Regions from separate parts of the Homo sapiens genome. Here all the other regions are reported to be linked to region 1. Evidence: microRNA targets listed by miRTarBase, many of them from high-throughput screens and not tested one by one. Region 1 holds a microRNA gene; each other region holds the end of a gene's coding sequence.
Evidence for each region. The annotated mature microRNA hsa-miR-4778-3p reads UCUUCUUCCUUUGCAGAGUUGA and lies in region 1 at 2,951-2,972, opposite strand. An mRNA with a match to its seed (bases 2 to 7 or 8) in the 3' UTR can be bound and repressed. Matches are read on the target gene's strand: a 7mer-m8 pairs with bases 2 to 8, a 7mer-A1 pairs with bases 2 to 7 and ends in A, and an 8mer does both.

Region 1 (4,097 bases):
TGGGGGTAGGGAAGTAGATACATATTGTGGTCTCTAATTATAGCAAATTCACCCAGACAATGAAATCACACAAAGTTTTACTTGGAAAACTCCAAAACAAGAGGTCATCTAATTCAAGGTTCTCATCCTAGGGTTCATTGACATCCCAGGATGGGCTTGGGTGAAGTTGGACATAACACATTTGAATGTGAATTTTGCTAAACAGAAGTTCAGTACCTTTCAAATGTTTTTGTATGGCTATATGCCCCCATCCTTAAGAGTTAGAAAGCACCAATGCTGACCAAACTTTTTACTTTCTAGACAAAGAAAGATTATCCCAATAAACTATGACTTATGCAAAGCATAGGGCCAGTGTATTAGTCTGTTTTCACATTGCTGATAAAGACATAACCAATTCACAAAAGAAAGAGGTTTATTGGACTTACAGCCCCCACGGCTGGGGAGGCCTCACAATCGTGGCAGAAGGCAAGGAGGTGCAAGTCACATCTTACGTGGATGGCAGCAGGCAAAGAGAGAGCTTATGCAGAGAAATTCTGGTTTTTAAAATCATCAGATCTCGTGAGACCTATTCACTATCACGAGAACAACATGGGAAAGACCTGCCCCCATGATTCAATCATCTTCCACTGGGTCCCTCCCACAACACGTGGAAATTATGGAACTACAATATGAGATTTGGGTGGGGACACAGAGACAAGCCACATCAAGCTAGTTAGAGCCAGAACTGAGACATTAATCAAGGATGCCTAATTTTTCTAAGTTACTTTCAGACCAATCTCATTTATTGGTAGTACTTTCTTCCCTGCTTGCATGAGGGTGGGAGACAAATCTTGGCTCTCCAAACAGCCAGACCCCAGACTCTGTGTTTGACCTTGTGCAATAGATTTGTTTCTTTAAGCCTGGATTGGCTGGGCACGGTGGCTCATGCCTGTAATCCCAGCACTTTGGGAGGCCAAGGTGAGTGGATCACCTGAGGTCAGGAGTTCAAGACCAGCCTGCCCAACATGGCAAAACCCCATCTCTACTAAAAATACAAAAAATTAGCCTGGTATGGTGGTGCATGCCTGTAACCCCAGCTACTCAGGAGGCTGAGGCAGGAGAATTGCTTGAACCCAGGAGGCGGAGGTTGCAGTGAGCCGAGATCACACCACTGCACTCCAGCCTGGGTGACAAGAGCCAAACTCTGTCCAAAAATAACAATAATAAAAAAAAGCCTGAGTTTACAAATCTATAGAAGGAAATTTAAAATATGATCTCTGTTCCCATCAAATTTCTTTGTTTCAAGTGATATAAACTAACTATGGCTGATTAGACAGTAGGGAATTTATTGCAAGGGTATGAGAAAGCACGTAGAAAAGGCTTCTTTGTGGCTCAACTCCACAACACTGTATTTTATGTTTATGAAAACATTGGGAAGGCTGAACTACCAGACTCAGAAATGGCATAAAGAAGGGGTGCAGGTAACAGCCTGAGCCACAGCCAAAATGATGCCACAATGTGAGTGAGGTGGAGACTCTATCACTCCACCTGACTGTTGCTGACACTGAATACTGAGGCTTATCTGTTATTGCTACTGAACTTAAACATTTAATGTCACCACCACAGCCTCTGTAAACCCTGGAAGCTGATGTTGAAGCCACCTCTGCAACCATTAAAGGAGAAATAAATTCTCTGCTTTCCTGATTTTTGCATCTCTCAATGCAAATTTAAAGTCTGAGGCAGGTACCTCTGTTTGGCTGAGTATAGGTGATGTGTTCATACCTTAGCTGCAGGGTAGCCTGGGACAAGAATTTTTTTGACTTCCATACTGGGAAATTCAAGCAAAATTCATATTATTAGAAATTTCTCAAATGTAAGAAATGGGTTCAAAGGCTGAACTCAGCCATTCAAAGGCTGAAACCTCTCAAATAAAACTAACATGGATCTACTACTCCATCCCATTAGGTTGGCGTGAGGATTAAATAGATAATAATAGATAGAGTGTCTAGGAAATAATAAGGACTCAATGTTCATTTTCATCATCATTGTATTACTCTTGTAAGAGTCAGCTTATCTTCATGGTATGCCAGTTGTCTGTAATACCTATAGCTGAGAAAAGTGAAATAAGGATTTGAAGTGTTTTTATTTCACATAATGGGAAAATGTAGGGAAAATTAAGGAAATGAGGAGTAATGCCAGAAGAGATGAAAGTGAAAAGACTGACAGACAGAGTCAGATAAGGAAAGTAAATGGGCATTAGATTAGTTGCAGAATTACTGACTCCTGTGAAGGAATGGATTGTCCAGGGAAAAGAAGCTAGCCAAGAAATGGAGACCTGGGAATGAGATCCATGCTACTCCGAGCTCTAATCCTAGGGCTGAATCTCCCAATCTAGGGTGCCCATACAAAAAGAACACAATAATTAAAGACAAATAAGGAATAGAAATATTCTGGGTCTTTTTGGAATTAAAACCTTATAGCTTGCATCTGTTTGGTAGTGGTGATTGTAGTGGTGGTCCTAGTGGTGTGTGTATGTGTGCAAGTTCATTTTGTTTTGTTTTAAACTTACAGAACAGAATTGAGATTTGGATTTTAAGGGAATTTTGATATTTCATTTTGACAGCTCTCCTTCTGACACTTCATTCTTCTTCTTCTCGCACCCAAACACACACAGGCATACAAACCTCTTTGGGATTGGCTGCAGAAACAGTGCCTCCCAGAGTATTCCCATTCATCTCATTTGTGCTTAGCTGACCTCTAATACCTAGAGGAGAACTGTAGTGCAAACATCAAGAAAATAATAATGTAATTCTAGAATAATATCCCTAAGACTTATAAATATGAAGCAAATATAAGAACCCTTTTTTCAGTGGACAAGAATTGCTTGTCTATTCATCACATCCTTTTTTTGTTTGGAAAGTGTCTCCTCTCTCTCTCCATGTTGACTCTAGAAGGACTATAAGCCACATATTCAACTCTGCAAAGGAAGAAGAGGGCTTCACTTCTTCTTACCTCTTCTTCCTTTACAGAATTGGACATGTGATTTACACTGACCAGTCAGTTTACCTTATATGTCTTAATGCCTGTGATTAGTCCAGAGAGAAATACATGAAGTAGGGATAACCAATCCAAACACTGCTTTGGAGTTTGATTGTTGGGATAAAGTCTCTCTTGAGTTCACAAAGCTTCAGGATCATGTATTCATGTGGCAAGCACCAGGATGCTCTCACCACCTTATGGAAAAAGCTTGCCTGAAGCTGAACAAAGGCAAATGGAGCTCAACATACCTCTGAACAATCTGAGCCAACAACTTCTCCTTTTGACTTCAGCTACTTTAAGTTGAGGTTTTATTACTTGGTGTATTAGTCTGTTCTCACACTGCTATAAAGAACTACCTGAGTATGGGTAGTTTATAAAGAGGGATTTAATTGACTCACAGCTCCACAGGTTGTATAGAAGACATGGCAGGGGAGGCCTCAGGAAACTTACAATCATGGAGGCAGGGCAAATGGGAAGCAAGCACATCTTTACATGGCAGCAGGAGAGAGAGAGCAAAGAGGGAAGTGCTACACACTCTTAAACAACCAGATCTCATGATAACTCACTATCACAAGAACAGCATGGGAAAAATCTACCCCCATAATCCAATCACCTCTTACCGGGTCCCTCCCCCAACACTGGGGGTTACAATTCAACATGAGATTTGGGTGGGGACACAGAGCCAAATCATATCACTTGGAAGTTGAGAATTTTATATCTCATACTTCCCCGCCCCAAGAAAAAAATAATTTCATACCCCCTTAGTGATATGAGTTGAACTTTTAGTATGACTTAAGAAAACATACTGACAAAAATGGCCAATAATCTCAGTAAAGCTTTTAAAATATTATTTACTCAGACTCTAGAGAATGCTTGCACAACAAGTAGATTAATAGACACCTAACAATAACTTATTGGTCCCCCCATCCAAGGTTAAAAATCATTGTTTATAAGTGCTTATGCTTTCAAAACAATACTGAGAAAAATGCACTTCTGAGTGTTATCATATTTTGAAGACTATAAACCCTTCATCCACTTTTGAAAAGAGGATGATATTGAAAAAGCCATTTGATAAGCTT
Region 2 (4,097 bases), not on the chromosome of region 1:
CTGTCCAGCCTGTGTGCTCACATGCCCACTGACACAGTCACACACACATTCACTCACACACTCATGTTCCAGACACACTCACATGCGCACACACATTGAGTGACAAACACACATTGAATGACGCATTCATGCCTGCTCATTGACACACCCACATTTGCAGTCAGCGCACGCACGCACAATGACTCACAAACTCACACACACACTGACACACACTGACACACTCACAGTGTCACACACATTCAGCGACATGCATGCTCACCTTCAATGGCACAGCCTCATTCCCCCACACCCTCCCACTCACACACGCTCAGTGATGCAGTCACATTCTGTCACTTGGATTCACACACATTCTCAGAAACTCATGCACATGCTCACACTGACACACACACGCACACGCTCAAACACACCCGCTCACTCACACTCACACCTGCTTGGGAATCACGGCACACACAGGTCCACTCTGAACAGGGAAAACCAAGGAGCCCTGACAGGCCCTGGCAAGGTCAGCCAAGCTCTATGCCCTCTCCTCTTGCCCTGTCCCCAAAATCTGGAGGGGCCCTTGGAAAGTGAGCAGTTGACTTGGCCCTGCTGAGACACAAGGGACGGACATGCTGGGGTTGTGCCCAGCCTGAAGAAGGCAGGGAGAACAGAGCACAGTGGGGGCCCCAGGCATGCCTGCAGGGCACCCCGATGGGACACACTACAAGGGTCCCTGAGACACCGGTTAAGCACCTTCAGGCCGGGGAGGCTGCAGGCCCAGCCCCAGAGACCTGCCGCCCCCTGCCCCTCCCCGACAGCCCCGCAAAACTACCCCTCCCATGCCTGCACTGGCCTGTGTATGCCGAGTGTCTCCCAGGGCCCCTGCCGCCCTGCAGACCTGCTGACTGCAGCTCCGCTCAAGCAGACAGGTCGCCTAGATCCAGGATTCCTCAGCCCAGGTGGGCAGCCACCCATTCCCAGCATTGGCTCTGAGGCTGCTTTGGGGGAGCCTGGCTATCATCTGAGCCATGGGGATGGCCGGAGGCTCTGTGCTCCAGAACAGCCGGAGGAAGTGTGTGGACACAGACTGAGTGAGCCCCGGGAGACCCTCGCCACGTCCAAGTCAATGATCCCGTCCCCTCCCCACACATGTGCAGGGAGGGGCCTATCACTTGTCCCAGTTCTGTCGCCCACAGACTCTGGGCTAGTTAAATGGCTGATCGAGGACTACCCTCCATTTGTGGCGAGCTCCCTGGCCTGTTGGGAGAGAGAGCCAGTCCCAGGAGGGCTCAGGAGGGCGGGTTCCAGGATCCTCAGGCCCCCACCAAGAACTGCCCCTCTGGCCACAGTGCTGAAGGAGGGGTGTCTGGATTAGCAGCGCCGTCCATCCTGAGGGAGCCCTCCTCAGGCAGCATCCAGGGCTCAGAGGGCCTCGGGGATGCAGGACAGAAAGGGGTCACTCCCCAGGGCCATCTAGGCTTCCTGCTCATGGCCCACTGCCTGCTCCCAGGACACAGGAGTAGAGCGCCTCCCAGTACACTGGGAAGGGAGCAGGACAGGACCCAGGATGAAGTGCAGCTCCCCCGCCCTTCCTCTCCCCCTCCCCAAGACATGAGCACTTGGGATCCCTTTCTCGCCCACACTCTGTCCCCTTGGCCATCACACACACACTGTCCCCAAACATCCCTCAGTGGCTAGGCCAAGGCTGGCCACCTGCGGGCTGATCTGGGAGGATGGGCACACACCAGCCCCTACCCCACCCCGAGTCCTGCACACAGCTCTTCACAGGGCCTCTGACTGCCTGTCCAGGCCCTCCTGGGGCTCTTCTCTGACCTCGGTTGCTGGCCTTGGTTGCACACGTGGCCTCTCTGACCCTTCCGGAAGCCTTGAGCCACACCCCTACAGTGCTGCCAGGGATCAGGGGCCTGGGACCCACCTGCTGCCCCTTGCCCAGCCTTCAATGTCCAAGTCACTTATTCCTGAGGACACCTGGAGTGCCTTTGGTACCCAGCCAGTCACTGCTCATGACCACCAGCATCCTGTTGCCAGGCTCCATGCAGCCCAAGGCACCCCACAGGCCCTCATAGACCCTGCCCCACACACACCTCGATGTCAGCCTGGCCACTGTGGCCCCATCCCCAGCAGACCACCTCCCACCCCAGTTTCACACAGCAGAGGCAAGACACCACTGGAACACTGAACAAAATTTACTGAAGAGAAACATGAACTGAAACTGCTGAAGAAAAGGGAATCTAACACAGAGAGAAACTGCAAACAGCCACTACAGGTCACAAGTCCCCGGCCCCTCCCTCAGTGTGGCCCCCCCCACCACATCCCTCCTTCCATAGGGCCCCAGGATCCACCTCTTGCCAGGATGGTGGGCTCTGGCAATGTGTACTCGCTTCAGGGAACCCCCTCCTGAGCCCACCCGCTGGGGCAGGGCCCTGCCCTATAGACTGCACAGGACAGTCACAGGATGCTGGAAAACATAGCAGGGAACACCCCACCAAGTTGAGGAAACTGAGTCACGAGTAACAGCAGGGGTGGAACGCCAAAGCACAAAGCTTCCTGGGGAGCCTCAGGCAGCCCTGCTCCTTCCCGTGTCTGGTTGGTCCTCCTGCAGTCGAGGTCACAGTCACAAGGTGAGCGTCTGCCATGCCTCCTTCCCACCGTCTCCTGGAACTGCGCTGGGGTACTCTGGAAAGGAGCTGCTCAGATAAAAACACACACATCCCCAAGAGAACAAGCAGCCACTGGCCGAGATCTACACCGGCAAAGCAGAGGTGGAGTTCTTGACACGGAACAGCAGTGAGCAGAGCCCGGGCCTGATGATGACGCAAACCAAAAACAACTACCCACCCCCAACACATCCTCTCTTCTCTTCTTACACTTCTTCCTCCTCCTTCCCCTCTTCCTCCTCCCCCTCTTCCTCCTTCTCCTCCCCCTCTTCCTCCTGCTCCTCCTTATTCTCCTCTTCCTCCTCCCGATCATCCTCTTCTTAATTCTCCTCCTCTTTCTCTTCCTCACTGGTGCAGGGGCTTATGAATGCTGCCTTCCTGGGGCTCCCCTCATGCAGTGTAGATGATCCTAAAGACAGGCTGGACCCTGTGGCCTCCCCTGCGGGGCTTCACTTCTGCCCCACAGCTCTTCCTCAGCAGCCCTGGCTCCTTCTGGCAGAGGCAGGCCCCAGGCAGGCTCCTCCAGGTCCCACGTGGCCTGGGTGCCAGTGGGCATGCTCAGCTCAAAGTCCACAGGGTAGATATTTGGGGGTGTCCAGAGGACCAGGCCAGAGCCCCCAGCCACACCTTCTTCAGCCCCTGCTTCGCTGGGGTCCCCATCTGAAGCCCAGGCACCCCATGTGCTAAGTGTAGTGGTTCCCCGCTTGTGTCTCCTGTACCTGTTAGGGGCTATGGGCCCGGCCCCCACTGAACCAGATGCTATTTGGTCTTGGTTGGTGAAGTCCCTTCCAGCTGGTGGAAAGTAAGGGGGCTTGATCTCGACCTGGCTTCCCTGTCCCTCTGCCCCAGTCAAGTTCCCTGTTAGTGTAAGCTGCCCCTTCCCCTTGTTCAAATGTCCCTGCTGCCTGCCAGGGGAAGGAGTGCTTCGGTCTTCTGAGCCTATGTTTCCCAGGGCTTGGGATGGCTCATGGCCCCAGCCCCTGCCTCGTTTCCCAACTCCTCTCCTGCAGCCTGTGGCCCCTCCCTGCCTGGAGTCTGGTTTTCAGCCTTGGGATACGTGGCCTGGCCATGGTCTTCTCCCCTAGTGCTTTCACTGCCTAACAGCCGCCTGCGTTTCACTAATGGGGGTAAGCCTCCCTGTATGGTCTGGGGGCTGCTGTCGCTAAAAGACCTTGCCTGCACGGTGGCCTGAGGTGCAGAGACACTGGCTTCTGCTCTTGCCTGTCTACCGGAGGCCCCCCGGCCTCTCCCTGATGGCTTCTCCTTATTCTTCATCACTGCCTCAGTGTTCTCCCACTCTTCTTCATCTCGAATGAGCTTCATTAACTCCAGAAAATTGGGAGGACACCCTCGCTGATCCAAGAGCTCCAGCTTGCCCCTGAGGGCGGGGGTCATGGCGACCCGAGCTAAGAGATGTTTCAGACGAATCATGTCTGTGCT
Region 3 (4,097 bases), not on the chromosome of region 1:
GACAGAGGCCCGATGGGCACTGGAGAAAAAGAATCAAGTGTGCCCCACATCAGCATCTATGAAGCCCTCTATGAAGGTGGTTCTATCTGTTGATCACAATAAAAAAACGATTGTGGATGAATTCATTCCGGTTTCAGATGAAGTGTGCTACAGGTGGCCCCTTAACCCACTGGCTGGAAACACTGCTCAGGAGGCTAAAGATAGGAGCTTTTGAAGCCTGGTTCTCTTCAGAGCCCCAGGGAAGGAGCAGGGGAGCCATCTGGCCCTAGGCGAGGCTGTCTCCCCTTCCCACCTTCTCTGTCAGTGAGGCCTCACAGGTCTCTGATGCTCTTAATCCCTTTCTTCTCTACCCAGGCCCCTACGATGGCCACGTACCAGGTGGTGGAGCTGCGGATCCTGACTAACTGGGGCCACCCCGAGTACACCTGCATCTACCGCTTCAGAGTGCATGGGGAGCCCGCCCACTAGCCCTGCTTACTGGTGCCTGCTGCCAGCCATCTGGGAGTGGGTGAACAGCACCCCGCCGCTTCCCCCACACGCTTGCTCGGCGCTCTGACTTCTAGGAGCACAAGAGAGGAGCCTGTGGCCCCATGCAGATGAAAAGGACGGGCAGGGTCTCCTGAGCAGCAGGTGGCTCGAGGCGGTTAGCAGGCTCCAGCAGCTCCCTTCTTCCTTCCCTCTGTGCCCGTGGCGTCTGCTTCCCATCCTGGGAGTGTGTATATATGTAGCATATCATGGGGGACTGGGAAGTTGGGAGAGGTAGGACCTGACTGGTCTTGGCTGGGGTCAGGGGCTGGTGCCTGGGAGCTGATGAAGCAGGTGCCAGGGCTGTGGGAGGGGCAAGCTACGGCCTGGGCTAGGTGAGCTGCCTCTGCCCCTGGGCAAGGAAGCGAGGCCCTCTGGGAGGAGGGTGCTTAGCTCCAGAGCAGGATGGGACTTCCCCAGGCAGGAAGCACTTGATGGAGAGCTGCCCAGCTCTCCTACAAGGTTAGTGCCCTCCACCTAGGGAAGCATGAACCACAGGGTCCCTGAGGGCCTTCGACAAAAGTGTGTATTTGTCCCGGGGAGGGTAGCAGTGGGCCATGGGGCTTCTTGTGCCCTAAAGGGGACTGGCTGCTGTGATCTTCTAAGGGGCCCAGGGCCAACCCTGTAGGCTTCCCCTCTGCTGGGGACGGTAGTTGCTTTTCTCTCTCCTGATGCTAGGTTGGGGCCCACCCTGCTCCCTGTTCCTGCTAGGGCCTGCCAGTGCCCCTGAGCTTGCTTTCCACATTCTCCCAGGGTATGGAGACCTAGACCTGTCTTTGGGGCCATTAGCATCTGGGGTTATAGCAAGAAGAGTGGGGAGCATGGAACTCCTGGGCTCTTGTGGGGACGTTCAGGGTATCGGGGTGCGAGGTCTGTCTGCACCGGCCCCCACATCTAACCAGGCCCTGATGTAGGGGTCGTCCGCTCAGGCTGCCCCCTTGGGCTCTTGCAGCTCTTGTTCAGGTAGTCGCCCTTCTGGTTTGTTCTCTGTGGGGCAGTTGGTGGGGGCTGGGGGAAGAGGCTGGCAGAAGTTACCCTGGATAGGGAAGGGGGAGGAGGGGACTTTTAGAGCCAGCAGGCCCCACTGTATTATGTATATATTTTTCAAGGTCTGTTTTTCTAACTGAAAAGCTAAGGGCTTGATTCCTAGCCCCGTTCTGTGGGGCACTGGGTGATACTCAGTTTCTTGTTCCTGGCCGTGGAGAGGGGCCTGGGGCACTGGTTCCGGCTGTGTCTGGTGGTCTGGCTGCGGGGAAGGGGCAAGAAGGCGGGCAGGCCTTCACTGCAGCACTGAGCCTCAAATCCGCTCTGGAGCATGAGGCTGGATGCAGTGGTGGTGAGGCCGCCCCGCTCCATCCCGAGGCAGCCAGGGTTTGTTTTGCGCTCTCCTGTCACAAATGCTGCACTATTGGTTCTTAAGTTTTTTATCTCCAGATCCTAATTTATGCCTATGCAAAAAATAAATGACGCCCAAGAGCTGTGGGATGTGGCTTTCATGTGGCTTTTGCCTATCACCTAGGGCAGCTGCTCTTGGGCAGATGAGGGAATGAATTCTTGGCCAAACGAATGTCCCCAAAGACTTATTCCTGAAGTTCAGAAACCCACAACTTTCAGCTAAAGCCCAGTTGTGGTGGGGGATGGGACCTGAGGCAGGTCTCCTCCAGTGTTTGTGGGTCAAGGGCTGGCATGAGGAAGCAGTGAGGTGGCTTTATTAGCTGTCATTGATAACCCATCACAAAGGGTGGGGCGGGAGCAGTGGGGCTTTCCTGTCTCTCAGTACCACTGAACAGCAGCAGAAAAAGTTACACTTACCTACCAGCCACGTCCACTTGGAGTGCAGTGATTCTCCTCCATGGGAATTCGCTATTTGCCCCTTGGACCTGTGACTGGGAAGGGACAAGGAGGTAGGTCCCTTGAACAGCCAGCAGCTTAGGAGAAAAACAGGCCCTGACCTTTCCCACAGATAGCTCCCCAGACCTGGTTCGCGTGGTTCTCTAGCCTGATCCTGGAGCCTCTCATACTGACCGTGGCACCTGGCCCAGGGCTGCTCCTCATCATGGCTGAGAAAACAAAGGCAGAAAGCCAGTCAGTAGGGAGGACTGTGGAGACAGCCACAAGGCAGGAGCTGGGTGAGGCACAAATCCAGCCCCCAAAGCCTTGGGCCAGCTCCTCAGCCTCTTGGGAGACAGCTGGTCCTGTGCTCACTCCCCTTCACTGACACCTGCTCTGCCTCTGACGCCATCTAAACAAAGGAGACATCCCCACGCAGCACCAATAAACAAGCCCCTGGAAGTTGCCACACACTGTGGCAAGAGTCCAGAGCCTGGGCTGGGCACATGCCCTCTGCCCATCTGTACATTCAAATCCTACTGGGCCCTCACAGCACAGCCCTCACACTGCCGGCTCCATGGTACTTCCCCCAACCCAACTAAACCTGTGCTGCCCCTGTGCGTGGCATATTCATCCCTGTGACCTTCTCTGTGCCAGGGTGGCTGATAAGCCAGAACAGTCCTGACTGTGGAGTCAGGGGTCTGGCCATCCCCATCCCACCATCACAGGCCTTACTCCTGGGAAAGACGCCACAAACACCTGCTGCACACACAGAAGGGTCAGGCCTTGCCATTGGAGGTGATTGGATTAACAATTTTATTCTGCATCCACTACAAAAGGGCTGGTGTTTTGTTCCAAATGTTTAGCTGGGAGGGCTGTAGGGACCCCTGTTACCCCCATTAAACACAGTAAAGCATGGATCCAGTCAGCCCCCTGCTGGCAGGTGTGGGCCTGGCAACTACACAGATCCAACCCCACCCTCCTGGGTGCGGCCAGAGGCCAAGGCAGTCGCCCGAGCTCCTGAATCCCAAGAATGGTTCTGGCAAGTACTGCTGTTTGTTTGTAGGGGCAAAGAGTTAAAATAAAACGAGGTTCTGCCATGGCTAAGCCTTGTGGAAACCAGACCCCAAAGCCCCTGCCATGCCAGGGGTCTCAACGCCAGACGCTTGTTATGGAGGCACCAGCAGGTAGTGGCCCCTGTAAGCAGGGCCAGAGTCGGGACAAAGAGCAGGAGTGAAGCAGCCAAGAGACAGAGGACCAGGCTGGAGCCAGTGGGCACGCAGGAGCCTGCCTGGGAAAAGCCGGGGGGCAAGGCTGGCATGGGAATGAACACCTGCTGGTGACACCTCTCTGAGCTTCAGTTCCCTTAACTAGAAAAATAGAACAGGCCCGGTGCGGTGGCTCATACCTGTAATCCCAGCACTTTGGGAGGCTGAGGCGGGTGGATCATGAGGTCAGGAGATCAAGACCACCCTGGCCGACATGGCGAAACCCTGTCTCTACTAAAATACAAAAAGTTAGCTGGGCGTGGTGGCGTGCACCTGTAGTCCCAGCTACTCAGAAGGCTGAGGCAGAGAATCACTTGAAACTGGCAGGCGGAGGTTGCAGTGAGCAGAGATCACACCACTGCACTCCAGCCTGGCAACACAGCGAGACTCCGTCTCAAAAAAGAAAAAGAAAAACAGAACAAACATCGACCTCAGGGGCGGCTGCTGGGAATGTCAACAGGAGCGTGTGAGACT

Region 2: the mRNA of PNMA5 is a reported target of hsa-miR-4778-3p. Seed matches in the 3' UTR shown: 7mer-m8 at 3,285-3,291, 7mer-A1 at 2,973-2,979, 7mer-m8 at 2,869-2,875 and 7mer-A1 at 2,859-2,865.
Region 3: miRTarBase lists SUN2 as a target of hsa-miR-4778-3p. Seed matches in the 3' UTR shown: 7mer-A1 at 1,331-1,337.

What each region holds. Positions count from the first base shown.
Region 1 is chr2:66,355,307-66,359,403 of GRCh38, forward strand. It overlaps MIR4778 (microRNA 4778), which reads right to left and starts at 3,022; the gene lies at 2,943-3,022.
Region 2 is chrX:152,986,656-152,990,752 of GRCh38, forward strand. It overlaps PNMA5 (PNMA family member 5), which reads right to left. Exons shown (of 4, transcript NM_001184924.2): 4 at 2,169-4,097. The coding sequence ends at 3,597. Among named protein-coding and RNA genes, the nearest start is that of PNMA5, 5.4 kb to the right of the region's middle. RefSeq lists an enhancer at 3,198-3,697.
Region 3 is chr22:38,732,638-38,736,734 of GRCh38, reverse strand. SUN2 (Sad1 and UNC84 domain containing 2) reads left to right here. Exons shown (of 18, transcript NM_015374.3): 18 at 355-2,001. The coding sequence ends at 468. GTPBP1 (GTP binding protein 1) reads right to left here. Exons shown (of 12, transcript NM_004286.5): 12 at 3,148-4,097. Among named protein-coding and RNA genes, the nearest start is that of SUN2, 21 kb to the left of the region's middle.